Linked DNA regions of Homo sapiens. The protein of the gene in region 1 purifies or fractionates together with the protein of each later gene. This does not show direct contact. Each region holds a gene or a part of one and is shown in the gene's direction. Other genes may lie near its edges.

Region 1 (4,639 bases):
AGAAATTCAGTGTTTATGTTGTTCAATTTATCTACTTTTTTCTTTTGTGGCCTGTGCTTTTGGTGTCATACCCAAGAAATCATTGCCAAAATCAATGTTGTAAAGTAATTATGTTTTCTCCTAGGAGTTTTATGGTTTTAGTTCTTATGTTCAGGTCTTTAATCCACTTCAAGTCCATTTTTGTATATGGTGTGAGGGGAGGATCCACCTTCATACAAGTGGATGTCCCGTTTTCCTAACACCCTTTGTTGAATAGACTGTCCTTTCCCCACTGAATGGTCTTGGTGAAGATCACTTGACCATAAAGGTAAGGGTTCGTTTCTGAGATTTCTAGTCTATTCCCTTGGTCTACGTGTCTATCTTTATGCCAGCACCACACTGTAACTTTGTAGTAAGTTTTGAAATCAAGAAGTGTAAGACCTCCAACTTTATTTTCTTACAAGATTGTTTTGGCTGTCCGGGATCCTTTGAGATTTCATATGAATTTTAGCACAGATTTTTCTATTTCTGCCAAAAGCATTCTTGAAATTTGATACGGATTGCATTGAATCTGTAGAGTGCTTTGGGTAGTACTGACACCTTAACAATATTAAATCTTCCAATCCATGAACATGGGATGTCTCCCTGCATCTCCCTCAGACCACGTGTCTCCTTCTCTGAGGCCATATCTCTGTGTCTCTAAGCCCATGTCTCTGAGCCAGTGTCTACCTCCCTCAGCCCATGTCTCTCCCTCTCTGAGCCTGTGTCCTGTCTCTGAGCCTGTGTCCTGTCTCTGAGCTTATGCTCCCTCCCCAAGCCCACGTCTCTCCCTCTCTGAGCTTGTGTCTGGTCTCTGAGCCCATGTCTCCCCCACTGAGCCCACGCCTCTGTGCCTCAGGTGCAGTGGGTCTCTGAGCCCACGCCTCTGTGCCTCAGGTGCAGTGGGTCTCTGAGCCCACGTCTCTGTGCCTCAGGTGCAGTGGGTCTCTGAGCCCATGTCCTGTCTCTGAGCCCACGTCTCTGTGCCTCAGGTGCAGTGGGTCTCTGAGCCCATGTCTCTGTGCCTCAGGTGCAGTGGGTCTCTGAGCCCACGTCTCTGTGCCTCAGGTGCAGTGGGTCTCTGAGCCCACATCTGTGTGCCTCAGGTGCAGTGGGTCTCTGAGCCCACGCCTCTGTGCCTCAGGTGCAGTGGGTCTCTGAGCCCACGTCTCTGTGCCTCAGGTGCAGTGGTCATCGCCTTTGTGGTCTGCTGGCTGCCCTACCACGTGCGGCGCCTCATGTTCTGCTACATCTCGGATGAGCAGTGGACTCCGTGAGTACCGGGAACCAGGAAGTTGGGTGCTGGACAAGTAAGTGCTCCCAAAACAGATGGTGGGTGTGGCAGGCACTGCTGAGGGGATCCACTCAGGGCAGGGGTGTGGTGAGTCCCCCGGCGACCCCCTGGGCAGGGTTGTGCTGTGACTGGGGCCGGGAGAAGGCCATGGAGGGACAGGTTCAAGGCAGGGGCTATTCAGGCCAGACTGGTGCAGAGAAAGAAAGTTGGTCCTAAGAGAGATGGCCCAGGCAGTTTCCCGAAGGTGAAAGAGAGACATCCCTGGCTCTGCTGGGGACATGGTGGGGGTGTCACCTCCTCATATGGCAGCTGTCAGAGCCCCAAGGCCACCCAGGTTGGACCCACAGGGCTCAGCCTGGAGTTATACTCAGGGCTGTGACTTATCGCAGCAAGAGCACCAATACTGACAAAGCTTTGCTTATACAGCAAAGTCAGCAAAGGGAAAAGACACATGGAGTGGGGTCAGCGGAAGACCAGATGCAGCTTCCAGGGCCCCCTCCCAGAGGAGCCTCACAGGACGATATGGGGGCCGATCACAGGGGCACCCACTGCCTGGCAAAACCCCTACTGTTTGCACCAACAGTTCAGGGGCAGGGAGCCCTTCTCACCCAAAAATGGCAGAGCCTTCCCAAAATCCAAGGCCCCAGGCACCAGCCAGAGGCCAGCCTTGCCAGCTGGCCATCCTGAGATGGCAGCTTGGGGCCCACTTGTGAACCCTTTTCTGTGCAGTGGGGCTGCCAGATCCCAGAATAAAAGGTTCCTTCCAGTGACAACCACCAGGGAGGGCGCACCTACGACCAATGAGGAGGAGAAGGCACGGGGAACAGAGTGTGGCCCCTGCAAAAGCTTCTGAAACTCAGGGCTGACTGGTAGTAATTGAGCTGCCTGGTGAGGGAGTGAGATCACTGTGGGGGGAGGCAACAAGCTGAGGGCAAGGTGTGTGGCTGCTGGGGAGGTGTGGAGGGGGTTACTGCCCTGGCTGTTTGGTTAGGCCGGGACCAGCCAAGCCCTGGACCCTTGGATGCACAGAGCTGCGAAGGGCAATGCAGGCAGCTGCAAGGAGAGGCAGGGATGGACAAGCAGAGCCCACGCTCCACCTAAAGAAGCCCAGGCTGGGTGGGACACGGTGGCTCACGCCTGTAATCCCAGCACTTTGGGAGGCTGAGGTGGGTGGATCACGAGGTCAGGAGATCGAGACCATCCTGGCTAACACGGTGAAACCCCGTCTCTACCAAAAATACAAAAAATTAGCCGGGCGTGGTGGGGGGGTCCCTGTAGTCCCAGCTACTCGGGAGGCTGAGGCAGGAGAATGGTGTGAACCCGGGAGGTGGAGCTTGCAGTGAGCCGAGATCGCGCCACTGTACTCCAGCCTGGGAGACAGAGCGAGACTCCGTCTCAAAAAAAAAAAAAAAGCAGCAGCAGCCCAGGCTGGGCGGGAGCACGACGAGAACTTGCAGCTGCTCAGGAGAAGCCAGACCCTGGAGCTTGTTATGAAATGTCCCCAAACAACCATTCTCAAGGGGTGTTTTAATTAGCGTCTGAGCCACCACGTCCCTCAGCCGCTGTGGCCCCGGCTGTCACCCTGCCTTGGGGCCCTCAAGAGTTCTCTCTGGGATCTGAGCGCCTCTCTCTCCCCGCAGGTTCCTCTATGACTTCTACCACTACTTCTACATGGTGACCAACGCACTCTTCTACGTCAGCTCCACCATCAACCCCATCCTGTACAACCTCGTCTCTGCCAACTTCCGCCACATCTTCCTGGCCACACTGGCCTGCCTCTGCCCGGTGTGGCGGCGCAGGAGGAAGAGGCCAGCCTTCTCGAGGAAGGCCGACAGCGTGTCCAGCAACCACACCCTCTCCAGCAATGCCACCCGCGAGACGCTGTACTAGGCTGTGCGCCCCGGAACGTGTCCAGGAGGAGCCTGGCCATGGGTCCTTGCCCCCGACAGACAGAGCAGCCCCCACCCGGGAGCCTTGATGGGGGTCAGGCAGAGGCCAGCCTGCACTGGAGTCTGAGGCCTGGGACCCCCCCCTCCCACCCCCTAACCCATGTTTCTCATTAGTGTCTCCCGGGCCTGTCCCCAACTCCTCCCCACCCCTCCCCCATCTCCTCTTTGAAAGCCAGAACAAGAGAGCGCTCCTCTCCCAGATAGGAAAAGGGCCTCTAACAAGGAGAAATTAGTGTGCGGCAAAAGGCAGTTTTCTTTGTTCTCAGACTAATGGATGGTTCCAGAGAAGGAAATGAAAGGTGCTGGGTGGGGCCGGGCCTCCGGCGGCCCGGCTGCTGTTCCCATGTCCACATCTCTGAGGCCTGCACCCCCTCTGTCTAGCTCGGGGAGTCCAGCCCCAGTCCCGCAGGCTCCGTGGCTTTGGGCCTCACGTGCAGACCCTGCCATGCAGACCCATGCCCCCCTCCCCCAGGCAGCTCCAAGAAAGCTCCCTGACTCGCCCCTTCAGGCCTGGCAAGCTGGGGGCCCATCGCCGTGGGGAGTCCCTCCCACCACCCTCGCCGCAGGCAGCTGCAGCCCCCAGAGGGGACCACAAGCCCAAAAAGGACAAAAATGGGCTGGCCTGGAATGGCCCAGACCCCAGCCTCCCCTCCTCCCTCCCATCCTCACCCAGGCCAAGGCCCAGGGGCTCTGCCAGGACACCACATGGGAGGGGGCTCAGGCCTCAGCCTCAAGATCTTCAGCTGTGGCCTCTCGGGCTCGGCAGAAGGGACGCCGGATCAGGGGCCTGGTCTCCAGCACCTGCCCGAGTGGCCGTGGCCAGGATGGGGTGCGCATTCCGTGTGCTTTGCTTGTGGCTGTGCAGGCTGAGGTCTGGAGCCAGGCCCAGAGCTGGCTTCAGGGTGGGGCCTTGAGAAGGGGAATGTGGGACAGGGGCGATGGTGCCTGGTCTCTGAGTAAGATGCCAGGTCCCAGGAACTCAGGCTTCAGGTGAGAAGGAGCGGTGTGTCCAGGCACCGCTGGCCGGCAGCCCTGGGCTGAGGCACAGACTCATTTGTCACCTTCTGGCGGCGGCAGCCCTGGCCCCGGCCTCCAAGCAGTTGAAAAAGCTGGCGCCTCCTTGGTCTCTAGGATCCAGGCTCCACAGAGCACATGACTAGCCAGGCCCCTGGCTTAAGAAGGTCGCCTAAGCCTAAGAGAAGACAGTCCCAGGAGAAGCTGGCCGGGACCAGCCAGGAGCTGGGAGCCACAGGAAGCAAAAGTCAGCCTTTTCTTCAAGGGATTTCCCTGTCTCAGAGCAGCCTTTGCCCCAGGGAAATGGGCTCTGGGCTGGCTGCCTGCACCGGCCATGTCGACCCAGGACCCGGACACCTGGTCT
Region 2 (4,639 bases), on another chromosome or scaffold:
GTGGAAGGTCAGGGAGTGTTCTTTCACTGGCAGCCAAGGAGACCAGCCTGCAATTGTTTATCTGTGACCATTTTTGCTCCTGAGCCCCAGAATGCATTTGGTGGGGAAGCCCAGTGCTCCCTTCTTCCCCAAAAACCCCTGTCAGGTGTCCACACTGTCTCTGGCCCAGAGAACTGTGGGCTGGAGAGATTCTGGGTGGAAAAGACGCCTCCTGCCAAGCTTGAAGCAGGAGATCACCTCGTTAAAATTTCCCTGACACTCGCAAGATTATCAGCCTCCCCAGCCCCACCTTCAGTGTTCTGCCCAGACGCCCAGCCAGGATTGCTCACCCTTAGTGGTCTCCTTTTCTAGGAGGCCCAGGGCTCTGGCTTGGCCAGATCTGGCCAACAGCGACTCTTCTGTTCCAAGAACTCTCCATAAGCTCAAGAAAAAGTAGTTCTTAGAGTCTTCAGGCCTCGGGTGAAGCAGTCTTCTGTTTCATTCTTGCTGTTCTGACAGCCTCATGCTCCAGCAGCAATGCTGTGTCCACAGGGCCAGGTGCAGGCTGCATAACAGCATGGACTCAACAGTGAGAGTGATCAGGAAGTTCCAAGGCCTCTGTCCTGGGGTTCGGTGCGGCACAGACTTGGGGGAGGGCCGGTGTCCTTCCAGGGTCTGAGGCATCTGTCATGGTTTTTTTCTGCAGCAAGCTCTCGTCATCCGAGATTCCGAGAAGAAGACCATCCCTTCAGAGCAGCTGGTGGTGGGGGACATTGTGGAGGTCAAAGGAGGAGACCAGATCCCTGCAGACATCAGGGTGCTGTCTTCTCAGGGGTGTCGGGTAAGCGGCAAGGGGTATCCACCCCAAGGACCATGTTCCAAACCTGCTGGCTCTGGGGTCTTTCCCAGCATCAGTATAAGAGGCAGGGAATGAGGTACCCAGCTGTGAACCACCTTCAACATTTCTTCTAGGTGGATAACTCATCTCTCACGGGGGAGTCTGAGCCCCAGCCCCGCTCCTCTGAGTTTACCCATGAAAACCCCCTGGAAACAAAGAACATCTGCTTCTATTCCACAACGTGTCTGGAAGGTAAAAGGCCTCTGGCTCTCAGCCCACATGTCCACCTGTGTCCTTTCTCCCTCCTGGGCTCTCAGGTCTGTCCTTTGCCACACCCCGTTACAAAGCTCATCCCAGAGGAAGCATGGAACTGAAGGGCCTAGAGGACGATGCTTGGCCTTGGGAATGTGGTGTGCCTATCGATTGTGCCAGCCCCCAGAGAGGGCTGCAAGCTGGCTGCACACCCCTCCTGGCTGAGGACCCCTGGAATAAAGCATCTACTTCCCCTGTAGGCACTGTCACCGGCATGGTTATCAACACGGGTGACCGCACCATCATTGGCCATATTGCCTCATTGGCCTCAGGAGTTGGAAATGAGAAGACGCCCATTGCCATTGAGATCGAGCACTTTGTTCACATTGTGGCAGGAGTGGCTGTCTCCATCGGCATCCTTTTCTTCATCATCGCTGTGTCCCTGAAGTATCAAGTCCTGGACTCCATCATCTTCCTCATTGGCATCATTGTGGCCAATGTGCCCGAGGGCCTCCTGGCCACTGTCACTGTGAGTCCATGCTGTTAGACAGCCTGCACCTGGCCCTGTGGACACAGCACTGGTGCTGGGGAGGCGCCCACACAAACTGCAATCTCCCCCAAGTCCAGAGCACCACGCCCTCCCCGCCAGCGACAACCCTGGAACATTCTGCATAGACTGTTCCTTACAGAGACAAAAAATTTGTCATATTTTCAATATTTGACTGCGTTTTCCTTGAAAACGTTATGCTTTCAATCTGCAATTCACACAGCTTACTCTGCCCCATAAGATCTAGATAAGACAGACTCCACCATTCACAGGTTTTCTAGAAGCTTGATGCCTTCCGCACATTTCTTTGGCAGTTTCTACAACTTAGGCATTTAGGCACATTGCCACACTCCACTTACCTCTCTTACGAAAAAAAAAAATTCCTCCCATTTTTCCTGCCGAGGACTCCAGCCCTTTCCTGGCCAACCCCAGACCCAGCTGTTTGTATGGGCCCATGTCATTCAGTCCCTAGAGAAGAGCCCCCTCCTCCTCAGTCTCTCCTGTGGGGGTCTCAAGGGGTAGGAGAGGAGGGGGTTTATGTTTCCAGTTTTGTGACTACATGATCATTGGCCTGCTATTGTCCTGACCAAAGAAAAGAGAAGAAGTTTTTGAAGTCCAGGTCTCCTCTGACTCCAGGAGATAGTAATTTGGGGAAATTGGAGCCAAAAGAACCCTTTGAGATCTAGGGGTTTAAAAGAATCTTTAAAATATGGAGCTTTTAAAATGAAACAACATAAAGGCTGCTGAATTCCCCAAAGCAACAAGTGTGTCCTTTGGGACAACTCTTTGGCATGCACTGGTCAGTCTCTCTTACACACTCCTGCTTAGGGATCACAGGAGGCGTCGTGATTGTACGTGAACACGAGCCACAGCAGCGTGTCCGTGTTTGCTGCCCGTGGGTCCCTTGTTTTCTTCAAGTCATGAAGGAACAAGAAAAGCATCTCATATTTAATCTTTAAAAAAGGATTGTGGCATAGAGGGCTCTTGGCGGCGTATAAGCCACCAGGTCAGCTTAGCTGCGCTGACAACCACACCTCTCCCCTAAAACTAGTCCAGCTCTCTCCTAAAATTCAATCACAGCTCACATTGGCTATTTCTGTATTATTGGACCTGAGTTCAAATGAGGATTTTTCCCAAAGCGTCCTTCCCTCTCCTGCTAGGTGACCCTGTCGCTGACAGCAAAACGGATGGCCAAGAAGAACTGCCTGGTGAAGAACCTGGAGGCTGTGGAGACCCTCGGCTCCACCTCCATCATCTGCTCGGACAAGACTGGGACACTGACCCAGAACAGGATGACAGTGGCCCATCTGTGGTTCGACAATCAGATCTTTGTGGCTGACACCAGTGAGGACCATTCAAGTAAGTCTTATGGAGAGCTCGGTCTGGCCAAAGCTGTGGACTCCATCCTGGGGCTGAGCTGAGCACACAGCAGGGTCTGCAGCCAGAGGATTGCTGGACAGTGACTCATGGACGGCCAGCCCAACCCACAGCAGCCACTGTTCTTTCTCTGTCTTCCAGACCAAGTCTTTGACCAAAGCTCTAGGACTTGGGCCTCCTTATCCAAGATAATAACATTGTGTAACCGAGCAGAGTTCAAGCCAGGACAGGAAAATGTCCCCATCATGAAGGTAATGCTTCTGCAGCACTTGGTCTTAAATCACAGCCAGTTTGTAGTCACTTGCTGAGGTCTGATTGGGTGCTTGATTTCATCTCTCCAGTTGCTTAAAGTTTGTTCAGTGCTTGCAAGAGCAAGTCAGACTCACAAGACATCCAGAAATTTTTCTTTATGCACACTAGCTTTGAGAATACAAAGATGCTTAAAAGGTTTCAGAATATTGCTTTAGCGTCTTCAGAAAATTCTGGAAATGAATGCACTTCTAAGTTACTTTCCTGACTTTTCTGCCAGCTAAGTGGATATAATCAAAGTTCCTTTTAATATACACACCATTCATGGAAATTTAAAGTGTGATTGAATAAAAATAAAAGGACTCCTGTTAACTAGAATATGGCTGCAGACAAAGCTCTAAGGGGTCCTGGAATATCGGAACATACAATAAACTCTCCCCCTCCCTCCCTCTCCTCCTTCCCTTCCTCCCTTTTCCTCTCCATCTCAATGAGTCACTGAATCCCTGTTCTCCTGGCTTTTCTATTTGCCATCTGTTTCCTTCCCTGACTCTTTTTCTTTCTTATTTTTTTGTTTGTTTGTTTGCTTTTCTCTCCGTCAGACAGCTCATGAATGCTCTTTTTGGCCAATTGCTTCTTTGTCGATATCTTCCAAATCTTTATGTCCAGCTCTAATTTCTTACCTCAACTCCAACCCGAATCTCTGGCTGGCTGTGTGCTTCCGCTAGGAAGTTGCACAAATCATGCTTGTTAACTTCCACCCGTACCCAGCCTGGCTGCACATCAGTGCCTTGCCGCAATTTTCTAATTGTCTATGATATAACCATTCTATTTGTCATTGGAACAGAATATTTGGAAGTCATCTTTGACTTTATCCTTTCCTTATATCCAGTAAGCCACCAAGTTCTATCATTCTTGCTTCAAAATATACATAACTTTAGTATTTGTCAGCAGTACCTTGCATCTAAATAGCCGATTACCGGCTGATTGGAATTAAACCTCTTTGATTCCGGTTTATCCCTCCTGGGGTCTTTCTCGAATGCCACTAATTTCCCTTAATGGTGCTTTTATAGTCACTTAACTTTGCTCAAAATCTCTCCGTACTTCCCTGTTTTCTGCTTCTCAAGTCTAGACCTCAGGCTACCTTTCAGGGCCCTCCAGGTCTTGCCACACCCTCCACATCCGCTTGTACCTTGAACACTCACGGACGAGCCTGCCCCTCATGCCCCTGCACCCGCATCCTGGTTTCTGGAAGGCTTTCTTCTCTGTGTATCGGTAACCCACCTATCTATCAAGATCTAGTTCGTAGCTGCTTTTTTCCACGAAATCTTCAGTCCTCGCAGAGGTCCAGCTTCTCCAAACATCCCTAATGCCAGTAGGTGGCACTGTTGTTTACACGC
Region 3 (5,185 bases), on another chromosome or scaffold:
CCCACTATTCTAAGAGGATGGCAGCAGCTAGAGTGGATCGGGAGAATATTACCAGCAGTAGAGATGGGAGGACAAGCCATTTTAGTGTCAGAGTCCACCACCAGCAGTACAGACTTGCTTTGAAAGGAGAGTCAATTGGATACTAAATGCAGTGCGAAGGTTTCTAAAGACATTCCTCAATCAAAATCAGGGGATAAAGCAGTCGCTTGAATCACCTAGGCCTGTCCTTTACCTGGACACAAGTGGTACAGTAGGGAGCATTCTGAATAGTGTCACCCAAAGCTTTGCATAGGCCTTAGGCCAGCAGGTATTGCACACCTTTCTCTGCTATTCCTCGTTACTGATATTCTGATCCCCACTGTGCACCCCAGTAAGCCACCAAGGTAAACTGCTTGCCTTGATAGTCTCTTTCAGCACTCTGCACTCTACACACTCTTGAATGTCAGTTAGGTGCTGTTATGTGGGAATCTACCTGCTTACCTAATAGATATAGCCTGGACACAAAGTTCTCTGGTTTATGACACTCCCATTGTACAGCTGCCTCCATAGCTCCTTGAAATTCTGGATCAGGGATTGGACATCTGACAGGTAGTTTTGACTGCTTGGTATCACAGAGTTCAATCCAACAAAAGGAAGACATGTTCCCTTGTGTATAATGAATCTGCAGATCACTTATTCAAACTATAGTAGTCTGAACTCAGATGCTGGATGTCAGGTCCCCTCAGGATTGTCTTCCTGCGTCTTGACTGCAGCCACTCCTACACAGGGTGATTTCCTGGGCTGGAGCCAGTTTGCAGGACTATGAGACTATATAGACTACAAAGCCTAGCTAGGCCCCAGGTCGGCGGCAGAGTAAGCCCCACAGCAATGCGTTAAGCCTTCATGAAATGAGTGTTGAATGAATGAGGTAGTGATTCAGTGTATATTTGATCCACTGCAATAGGTGGGAAGGGGGCAGAGGCAGCTACTTCCTAAAATAACCCTTCTTCAGACTCTTAAAGAACTGATCCTTGTTTTGAATTAAAATCTATCTTCATTTAACTTCCAGTCCTTTGCCCTACAGATAATTCGTAGCGCCACATCAGTTCTACCCATTCTTTCACATGAAGACAGATGTCATGTTCTGAGTCATCTTTCTTCGCCTCCTTCCAGCAGCCCTTATCTGGTGGCTCACATTTGAGCGAGCTCCAATATGTCTCTGTAGAATCTCTCTCTTCTTTTTTCTTTTCTTTTTTTTTTTTTTTGAGATGGAGTTTCGCTCTTGTTGCCCAGGCTGGAGTGCAATGGCGCGATCTCGGCTCACCGCAACCTCCCCTCCCGGGTTCAAGCGATTCTCCTGCCTCAGCCTCCCTAGTAGTTGGGATTACAGGCATGCACCACCACGCCCGGCTAATTTTGTATTTTTAGTAGAGACAGGGTTTCTCCATGCTTGTCAGGCTGGTTTTGAACTTGCGACCTCAGGTGATCCGCCCGCCTTGGTCTCCCCAGGTGCTGGGATTACAGGCGTGAGCCGGCCCGGCCTGTAAAATCTCTTCAAAGTGTGGTACATGGAGTGCAGTACTCCACCTGTGGCCTGACTGATATGCAGTACAATATTATCACTAAATTGCTACAGACAGTGTGCTTTTCATTGTTGTCACAGAAATGTATTTGGTTAGTTATATTTGTTCATATCTCATCTGACTTTCCAGTCTTCCCTCACTTTGTACAGTCATATTTGCCGAGTCAAGTAAAAGTTATAACATTTAGGACACAATGCCCGACTTACTATAATTACCATTATTATCTTAGGATCATTACAAAACAGAATTACCACTTAGCTCTCAGGCCCTACCTCCTTCAGCCTCAGAAACGTTAACGCTACCTTGCATTGCTGCTTTTAGCACCGCCCCTAATAAGCCCCGCCCCTGGGGCCTCCGCGGCGGGAGCCTAGCGTCCGCCCCACCCACCCCGAGCCCGAGGCGGGGCTGTGGATGTAGACGCTGATTGGCTGACTGGGGCGCAGCTTGATGGCGTCGGGCTGGAGAGCCGCAGTCCCGGCTGCAGCACCTGGGAGAAGGCAGACCGTGTGAGGGGGCCTGTGGCCCCAGCGTGCTGTGGCCTCGGGGAGTGGGAAGTGGAGGCAGGAGCCTTCCTTACACTTCGCCATGAGTTTCCTCATCGACTCCAGCATCATGATTACCTCCCAGGTGAGTCACCGCCTCCCGCCCCGACACCCGTCCGCCTCCCTTTACCGAATCGCCCTCTCCGGTCCTCCGCGGTGCGGGCTGGTCCGGGGTCTCGCTCCTCTCTTACGCGTCCTGCGCTAGTCACTCTGGCACCCAGAGAGGGTGTGCGATTTGCTGCGGCCGGTTCCCTCAGCCCCGGCTGTCAGGAGACTGGCCTGCGGCCGTCCGCGTCCCCACCCGGCATCCATCCCCGGAATTTCGGTCCACTTTTGGAAGCGGTCCGCCGACCTCCAGGCTAAGAGCCGGCGCCGCCAGCTAAGGCGGCGGTTCTAGGAGCTCCTCGAAGCTTCCGGGCTGCGCCAACTGATCCTGGACTGGGGAAGCCTGTGTGGTTCTGGGCGCGCGGTGTGCGACGCGCCAATACTGGATACTGAGGACACGTCAGTGCAGGCTTTGCTGTTAGATGTCAAATCCTGAATCCGGGTGTGGAGAAATTTGCTGCTTCAAAGTATCAGTATAAGGTAATACCTGTGCTTGAAAGTATAAGGTTTCGTTTTTGCACTGACACCTCGTCCTTTATCCTCTGCTTAGTTACCCACCTTTTCCGGATGTTTTTCTGACCCTCATTTCTTCTCCATTGGCCACCTTCATTTGTTTGTACAGTCAACAAACATTTATCGACCATTATATAAAGCTCTGAGCGTAAAAACATGTAAGACACTGTCTCTGCTCAATAGAAGTTTCGTCTAGTTAGCCTCTTGCTTTTACCATGTAATCTATTGTTAATTATTGTTTCTTCCTAGCATTCATCATAGCACTGGCATCATTTATGTCTGTGTTTCTGATTTTGTTTTTTGAGATCCTGCCTTGTTCATAGCTGTATCCCCACTTCCAAGTGCAGGCATTCAATAAATAATTGTTGGCCAATATTTGTGAAGCTCAGACTGCCTGTTGACCTTCTTCCCCCCATCTTTCCAATAAAGATTTTGTGTGTGTGTGGTTGTTTTTACTTGTTCTTTCTCTCAAACGGCAAATAACAGAAGCAGTTACCTTTGGGGGCTTAAAGTGAACTAAATTTGTGTTCTTTGATTCCGTTTTTGTATTGCTTCATCCTAATACTCGTCTCCGTAGAGCGGAGCATTGTCCTTTTCTCTTCAAAAACTTGTTTACAATATTTAAGAAAATAAGAAAGAAGGAAAAGCCATCCATAATCCTACCACTCTAATGCAATAGTTTTTTCATTTTTAAAATTTACCACCTTTTCTATAGTTTTCATAAGTATTGTTTTTATTGGCTGCATAATATTCAAATGTATTAATGTAAAAAAACCTAGACATGTAACTCTTCTGCTTAAAACCTTTCTAAGACTACCCAGTGCCCTTGGTGACAACTCAGGGTTATTTTTAGCCTTAGTACCAATTTAAGAAAAATAACAATATTTAATTAGCTTTTCTTTTCATTTAGAATAAAGATAAGAATGTCAGTAGAAAATTGGCTTTGCATTGCAGCCTCTACGATTTTTAGCATGGATATAATTGATACGTTGAACCGAGGAAGTGGCTTTCTAATTTTGTATGCCTTATAATCATAGACTTTCACTTCACACATGCATCCACATGCAGTAATTAATTGTTAAACCTGGTTTTTACAAATGTGGAAGAAAGACCCAAAGATTCCTTTGCATGGAATGTTCTCTGTTCAGATATTTATGTGGCTACTTTATCATCCTTTCGGTATTAATAAAAATGTCGCTTTAGGAAGGTCTTACCTGACACCCTGCCCACAACCAAAGTAGCTTTCCATTTCGGCTGCCTTCTTCCTCATTTCCATGTTTTATTTTCTTCTTGGCATTTATTACTATGGTTCATTTGTATATTCATGTGTTTGTTATCTGTCCATGAGGTCCAAGATACTGTCTGTCTTGTTCTCTCCTGTATTCACCAGCATCTAGATCAGTTGCGGGCACATAGTAGAGTTGTAGTGAATATTTGTTTAATAAAAAGCACCTCTCTAGAGAGGTGTGGTTACCTTGGAAACACCACCATTGCCCCCTGCGCCCCTCCCTGCTCATTTTTTCTGTTTTGTATTAACTGAAAGGTTTATTTGAAATGAAATCTGAAATCAGAGGTCACGTATTCAATCTTGCTCACCACGGCACAGGATGAAGTTCAAACTCCTTTACATGGCTTTTCAGGTCCCTTATTGATGGGACCCTGGCTCTTCTCTCTTCAGCTGTGGCTCCAATTTATTCTTTAGACTTCCTGAACTTCTTTTAGTTCCCTAACCTGGCGATGCTATGGTGCCTCCAGATTTCCACACAGTGTGTTTTCTCTTTCTGGGCCTTTTCCTCATATCCCTCCCCTTCTTTAAGCCTTCAGATCTCAAGTTGAACATCCAAGAAGCTTCCCCTAGACTGGACTAGATGTCCCTATACCTACTGCCATAGTACCCTTCACCTACTTCCCCTGTAACAACACTACCACATTGTTTGGTAATTACTTGTTTATCTCCTCCATAGATTATAAACTCCTTGAGAGTAGCATTCATGCTCTCATTTGCCATTCTATCCCTTGGACCTGGCACATATTAGGCACTAATAAATATTTGTTAAATGATTAAAAGGGTGAATAAATGATCCAAGAAAGGTGTCTTTTATAGTTAATTCTTTAATAACTGTCCTGCTGATGGCCATCTTTTTTTTTTAACAGTAGCTAATTTTCAACCCAGAAGTCACTTTTTTAAAAGCAACTGTTAACTAACTCATGTTTTGAGCCCTCTATACCGTCATAAGACTTATCAGTTCCAGAGTACACTCTTAAGTCCTAAGGTCAAGACTCTGTACAATTCTGAAAGTATCAAGTCTCATTTTTAATAAGAAGCTATACGCCTTCCATTTTATTTGCAAAGCTATTTGAAATTGCATTTTGCTTCTGCTTTCTTTTTGGATCCTCTATAATCTTGCCAGAATTTGTGTTTACTTGGATGTAAATGAATTCTCCAGCTACTTGTGTGTGTGT
Region 4 (4,639 bases), on another chromosome or scaffold:
ATTTCATAACAGAATTTAGTTTTTATTTTGTTCTCCTTATTTGTTTGGAGGAGTTATTAAGTTAGAAAGCAGATAACAAAATAGTCCAGCAACTCGATCAACAAAATTTTCATTTTTCATTGGGCATCTTTTGTTAAAGTAAACTGTATCTATACATAATCATTCATATACATTGAAAAGAAACCAGAAGTATGTATACCAAAATGTTGTGGTTGGTTGGTTCGTTTTGAGACAGAGTCTCGCTCTGTTACCTAGGCTGAAGTGCAGTGGTGCAATTTCGACTCACTGCAACCTCTGCCTCCCGGGTTCAAGCGATTCTCTTGCCTCAGCCTCCCAGGTGGCTGGAATTACAGGCACCCGCCACCACGCCCAGCTAATTTTTGTATTTTAGTAGAGGTGAGTTTTCGCCATGTTGGCCAGGCTGGTCTTGAGTTCCAGACTTCAGGTGATCCACCCACTTCAGCCTCCCAAAGTGCTGGGATTACAGGCATGAGCGCCCAGCCTGTTTGTATTTTGAGACAGGGTCTCACTCTGTCGCCCAGGCTGGAGTGCAGTGACACGAACACAGCTCACTGCAACCTCAACCTCCCACCTTAGCCTCCCGAGTGGCTGAGACTGCTACCACGCACCATAATGCCTGGCTAATTCTTTGTATTTTTTGTAGAGATAGGCTTTTGCCACGTTGCGGAGGCTGGTCTCAAGCTACTGCACCTGGCCTCAAAATGTTAACAGTAGGGCGCGGTGGCTCACACCTGTAATCCTAGCACTTTGGGAGACCAAGGCTGGAGGATCGCTTGACCAAAGGAGTTCGAGACCAGCCTGGGCAACACATTGAGACCCCGTCTCTATGAGTTAAAAAAAAAAAAAAAAAAAAGTCAACAGTAGTTATCACGTGGATGGTGAGTTGTTTGGGGACTCTGTTTTGTTTCATTTTGTGTTTATGTATATTTCTGTGGTTTCTGTAATGACCTCTTGTTTAAAAAACCAGATTGATGAGCTGCTTGTAATTTCAGTGATACTAAAAATTGTTTCTGCTTTTATTTTTCAGATTAACAAAATATATTGTGTTACTATGTTTCACTAAATTTTTGAAGGCTGTGGGACTTTTCGAATCATATGATCTCCTAAAAGCTGTTCACATTGTTCAGTTCATTTTTATATTAAAACTTGGGTGAGTGTGGGGGGGGGTTTTTTCTTGATATTTTTTATTTCTTTGAAAATCCTGTTTTAACAGAGTATCTTTAAGAAACTTTACATACAATATTTTGTTTGTTCCTCCTGACAAGTATTTGATAAACTTTTTTAACTGGGAGTATACTTAAGATTAGAGGTACAAAGAGACTGAAAAGAAAACGGATTGTTGTGCTCTAATCACTTGCCTAAACACAAACTTTGATGAGATTTTTGCAAATTTAGTTTTTGGGCTATTTATTATTATTATTATTCACTGCATAATCCTTTCTTAGTACAGAGTCCTCATGTAGTGTGAACATTAATTTATTCTACTTATACGAAATGCTTTTTTTTTTTCTTTTTTGAGACACAGTCTCACTCTGTCACCAGGCTGGAGTGCAGTGGCGTGATCTTGGCTCACTGCAAGATCACTGCCTCCTATGTTCAAGCGATTCTCCTGCCTCAGCCTCCCGAGTAGCTGGGACTACAGGCGCTCACCACCATGCCCAGCTAATTTTTGTATTTTTAATAGAGACAGGGTTTCACCATGTTGGCCAGGATGGTCTCAATCTCTTGACCTTGTGATCTGCCCGCCTCAGCCTCCCAAAGTGCTGGGATTACAGGCATGAGCCACCACGCCTGGCCTACATATAAGAAATTCTAAATAAAGATTTCTTGGACCTTGAGATTGATAGTGACCACCCTCTGTGTTAATAAAAACCTGTTAAAGACTCTTGGGAGTCAGCTGGGCACGGTGGCTCATGCCTGTAATCCCAGCACTTTGGGAGGCGGAGGCAGGTGGATCGCCTGAGGTCAGGAGTTGGAGACCAGCCTGGCCAACATGTCGAAAGCCTGTCTCTACTAAAGATACAAAAATTAGCCAAGCGTGGTGGCATGTGCCTGTAATCCCAGCTACAAGGGGTGCTGAGGCAGGAGGATTGCTTGAACCTGGGAGGCAGCGGTTGCAGTGAGCTGAGATCATGCCACTGCACTCCAGCCTGGGCAACAGAGCGAGACTCCATTTAAAAAAAAAAACAAAAACAACACTCTTCGAAGTATAATTTTGGTAAGTTGGGAAAGAGATTATTGACTAGGAAATATTAAGCACCAGTGACGTGCTTTTTTTTTTTTTTTTTTTTTTTGAGACAGTCTGGCTAGGTTGCGCAGGCTGGAGTGCAGTGGCTCAATCTCAACTCACTGCAGCCTCTGCCTCCAGGGTTCAAGCAATTCTGTCTCAGCCTCCTGAGTAGCTAGGATTACAGGTGTGTCCCACCATGGCCAGCTAATTTTTGTATTTTTTTTAGTAGACACGGGGTTTTGCCATGTTGGCCAGGCTGGTCTCCAACTCCTGACCTCAGGTGATCCGCCCACCTCGGCCACCCAAAGTGCTGGGATTACAAGCTTGAGCCACTGTGCCTGGCCAAGTTGTGTGCATTTTTATATAACTATTTTGGCAATGTGAAAGGTAGGGATATATAATTAGTAATTTCTTCATTTTCATTATACTATTTCAAGATTTATTACTGAATTTTAGAGAAAATAGGAATTCTCTTCTTTGATATTTTAAGATATAAAAAAAATTGTGACTCCTTTATTTTTGTGGCTTGTTAGCTGGTTCTGAAGACAGTTAGAAAATAAGAGTTCTCGGCCAGGTGTGATAGCTCATGCCTGTTTTCCCAGCAGTTTGGGAGGCCGAGGCAGGCGGATCACCTGAAGTCAGGAGTTCGAGACCAGCCTGGCCAACGTGTTGAAACACCATCTCTACTAAAAATACGAAAAATTGGCTGGGCGTGGTGGCGCACACCTGTAATCCCTGCTACTCAGGAGGCTGAGGCAGGAGAATTGCTTGAACCCGGGAGGCAGAGGTTGCAGTGAGCCAAGATCGTGCCACTGCACTCCAGCCTGGTGACAGAGCAAGACTCCATCTCAAAAAAAAAAAAAAAAAAGTTATCAAAATATTGCAATAGGAGTTTTACTAAAATAAGTATAATTAATTCTCCAGTATGATTTATTCAGAGGATAACACTTCAAGTTCTGGCATATTTGTTTAAAATAAGTGTCTTTACTTAAAACTGTATCTTGTGTTTAATATGGATTAATATTAATATATTAATGTTTCAATATTTACAGGACTGCATTTTTTATGGTTTTGTTTCAAAAGCCATTTTCTTCTGGGAAAACTATTACCAAACACCAGGTAAGATTTTTGCAGAATCTTTTATTCCTAGCAGCTTCTCGTTTAGTGGGCCAGGAGGCAATGCTTATTTTTTATAATGGGTACTTAATGAATGATTTAAGTATGCCACAGAACAATTTTAGAGTTAACTTGCTCTTGTCTTTTCAGAATGGAGACTTTAAATCATAAAGTACTAAGATCATGGAATGTTTTTAAAAAAAACAAGAGGGTAAAAAAAATTATAAAGCATTCATGTAATTGTTTTCTTCAGTACACACTTCTTATTCTGAAAGATTTACAAATTGGACATGAAAGCATGCCCAAGAGCCTAGTACAAATGTCACTGGAAAGCTGACAAAGCATAGGGGTTAAGAGTGTGATTTCTGGAGTCAGACAAAGTCATGTTCTGTCTGTCCTCCTTACTGACCCTTACTTTGGGCAAGTTACTTGATTTCTCTCTACCTTAATTTGCTCACTGTAAAATGGAGATAACAGTAACTTCCTAACAGAACTGTGAGGAAAAATGAATTAATACTTATGAAGTTCTTAGAATGATGCCTCATCATCATTGTGACAATGTGACACCCTCATGATCATTGTCACTGTTCTCTTTAGGCAGCTGTGATTCAAACTAGAAATGTCCTACATTTTGCATAATCATCTCACATCGTCACTTCTTTGGGCAGCAGTTATACCATAGTACATGTTTGCTTTATGCCATGACTTACAAACCTGCGTCATAATTTTTTTATTAGAAAGACGAATTTAAGTACTTCTGTTTCAGAGACCAAGAACATTTTTTAAAATATGATTAATAGTCTAAACCCCATTTTAACTTTTTTCTCTCCTTTCAGATAATTGGATCACTAAAAATTCCTGGTAGAAAAGAATTTAAAGACAAAAAGTTAAATGATCCTAGGAAACTAGTGGGAAACTGAGAAATCATAAAATTGTACTCTGAAGAAAAAGATTTCAAAATCTACCAGCAGACAAGAATATAGATAATGGAAAACAGAATACTGTCCTTTTTTTTTTTCTTTCTTTTTTTGAGAAAGAGTCTTGCTCCATCGCCCAGGCTGCAGTGCAGTGACACGATCTTGTCTCACTGCAACCTCTGCCTCCCGGGTTCAAGCGATTCTCCTGCCTCAGCCTCCTGAGTAGCTGGAATTACAGGCACCCACCACCACACCCAGCTCATTTTTGTATTTTTAGTAGAGACGGGGCTTCATTCACCACATTGGCCAGCCTGGTCTTGAACTCCTGACCTCAGGTGATCTGCCTGCCTCGGCC

Evidence for each region.
Region 2: the proteins of NTSR1 (region 1) and ATP12A purify together in Homo sapiens (affinity purification with mass spectrometry; one large-scale study listed by BioGRID and IntAct). This does not show direct contact.
Region 3: the proteins of NTSR1 (region 1) and GPR89A purify together in Homo sapiens (affinity purification with mass spectrometry, with the first as the bait; one large-scale study listed by BioGRID). This does not show direct contact.
Region 4: the proteins of NTSR1 (region 1) and SLC30A5 purify together in Homo sapiens (affinity purification with mass spectrometry; one large-scale study listed by BioGRID and IntAct). This does not show direct contact.

The regions. Positions count from the first base shown.
Region 1 is NC_000020.11:62,757,066-62,761,704, forward strand, and holds part of NTSR1 (neurotensin receptor type 1), read left to right. Parts: intron 1-1,200; coding exon 1,201-1,291; intron 1,292-2,952; coding exon 2,953-3,202; 3' UTR 3,203-4,639. UniProt on the Homo sapiens protein: G-protein coupled receptor for the tridecapeptide neurotensin (NTS). Signaling is effected via G proteins that activate a phosphatidylinositol-calcium second messenger system.
Region 2 is NC_000013.11:24,689,653-24,694,291, forward strand, and holds part of ATP12A (potassium-transporting ATPase alpha chain 2), read left to right. Parts: intron 1-685; coding exon 686-820; intron 821-951; coding exon 952-1,069; intron 1,070-1,311; coding exon of another isoform or gene 1,312-1,329; coding exon 1,330-1,598; intron 1,599-2,776; coding exon 2,777-2,975; intron 2,976-3,134; coding exon 3,135-3,244; intron 3,245-4,639. UniProt on the Homo sapiens protein: The catalytic subunit of a H(+)/K(+) ATPase and/or Na(+)/K(+) ATPase pump which transports K(+) ions in exchange for Na(+) and/or H(+) ions across the apical membrane of epithelial cells.
Region 3 is NC_000001.11:145,605,987-145,611,171, forward strand, and holds the start of GPR89A (Golgi pH regulator A), read left to right. Parts: upstream 1-2,001; 5' UTR 2,002-2,147; coding exon 2,148-2,189; intron 2,190-2,631; exon of another isoform or gene 2,632-2,689; intron 2,690-5,185. UniProt on the Homo sapiens protein: Voltage-gated channel that enables the transfer of anions such as iodide, chloride, bromide and fluoride which may function in counter-ion conductance and participates in Golgi acidification.
Region 4 is NC_000005.10:69,099,759-69,104,397, forward strand, and holds part of SLC30A5 (proton-coupled zinc antiporter SLC30A5), read left to right. Parts: intron 1-1,048; coding exon 1,049-1,171; intron 1,172-3,303; coding exon 3,304-3,370; intron 3,371-4,203; coding exon of another isoform or gene 4,204-4,287; exon of another isoform or gene 4,288-4,639. UniProt on the Homo sapiens protein: Together with SLC30A6 forms a functional proton-coupled zinc ion antiporter mediating zinc entry into the lumen of organelles along the secretory pathway.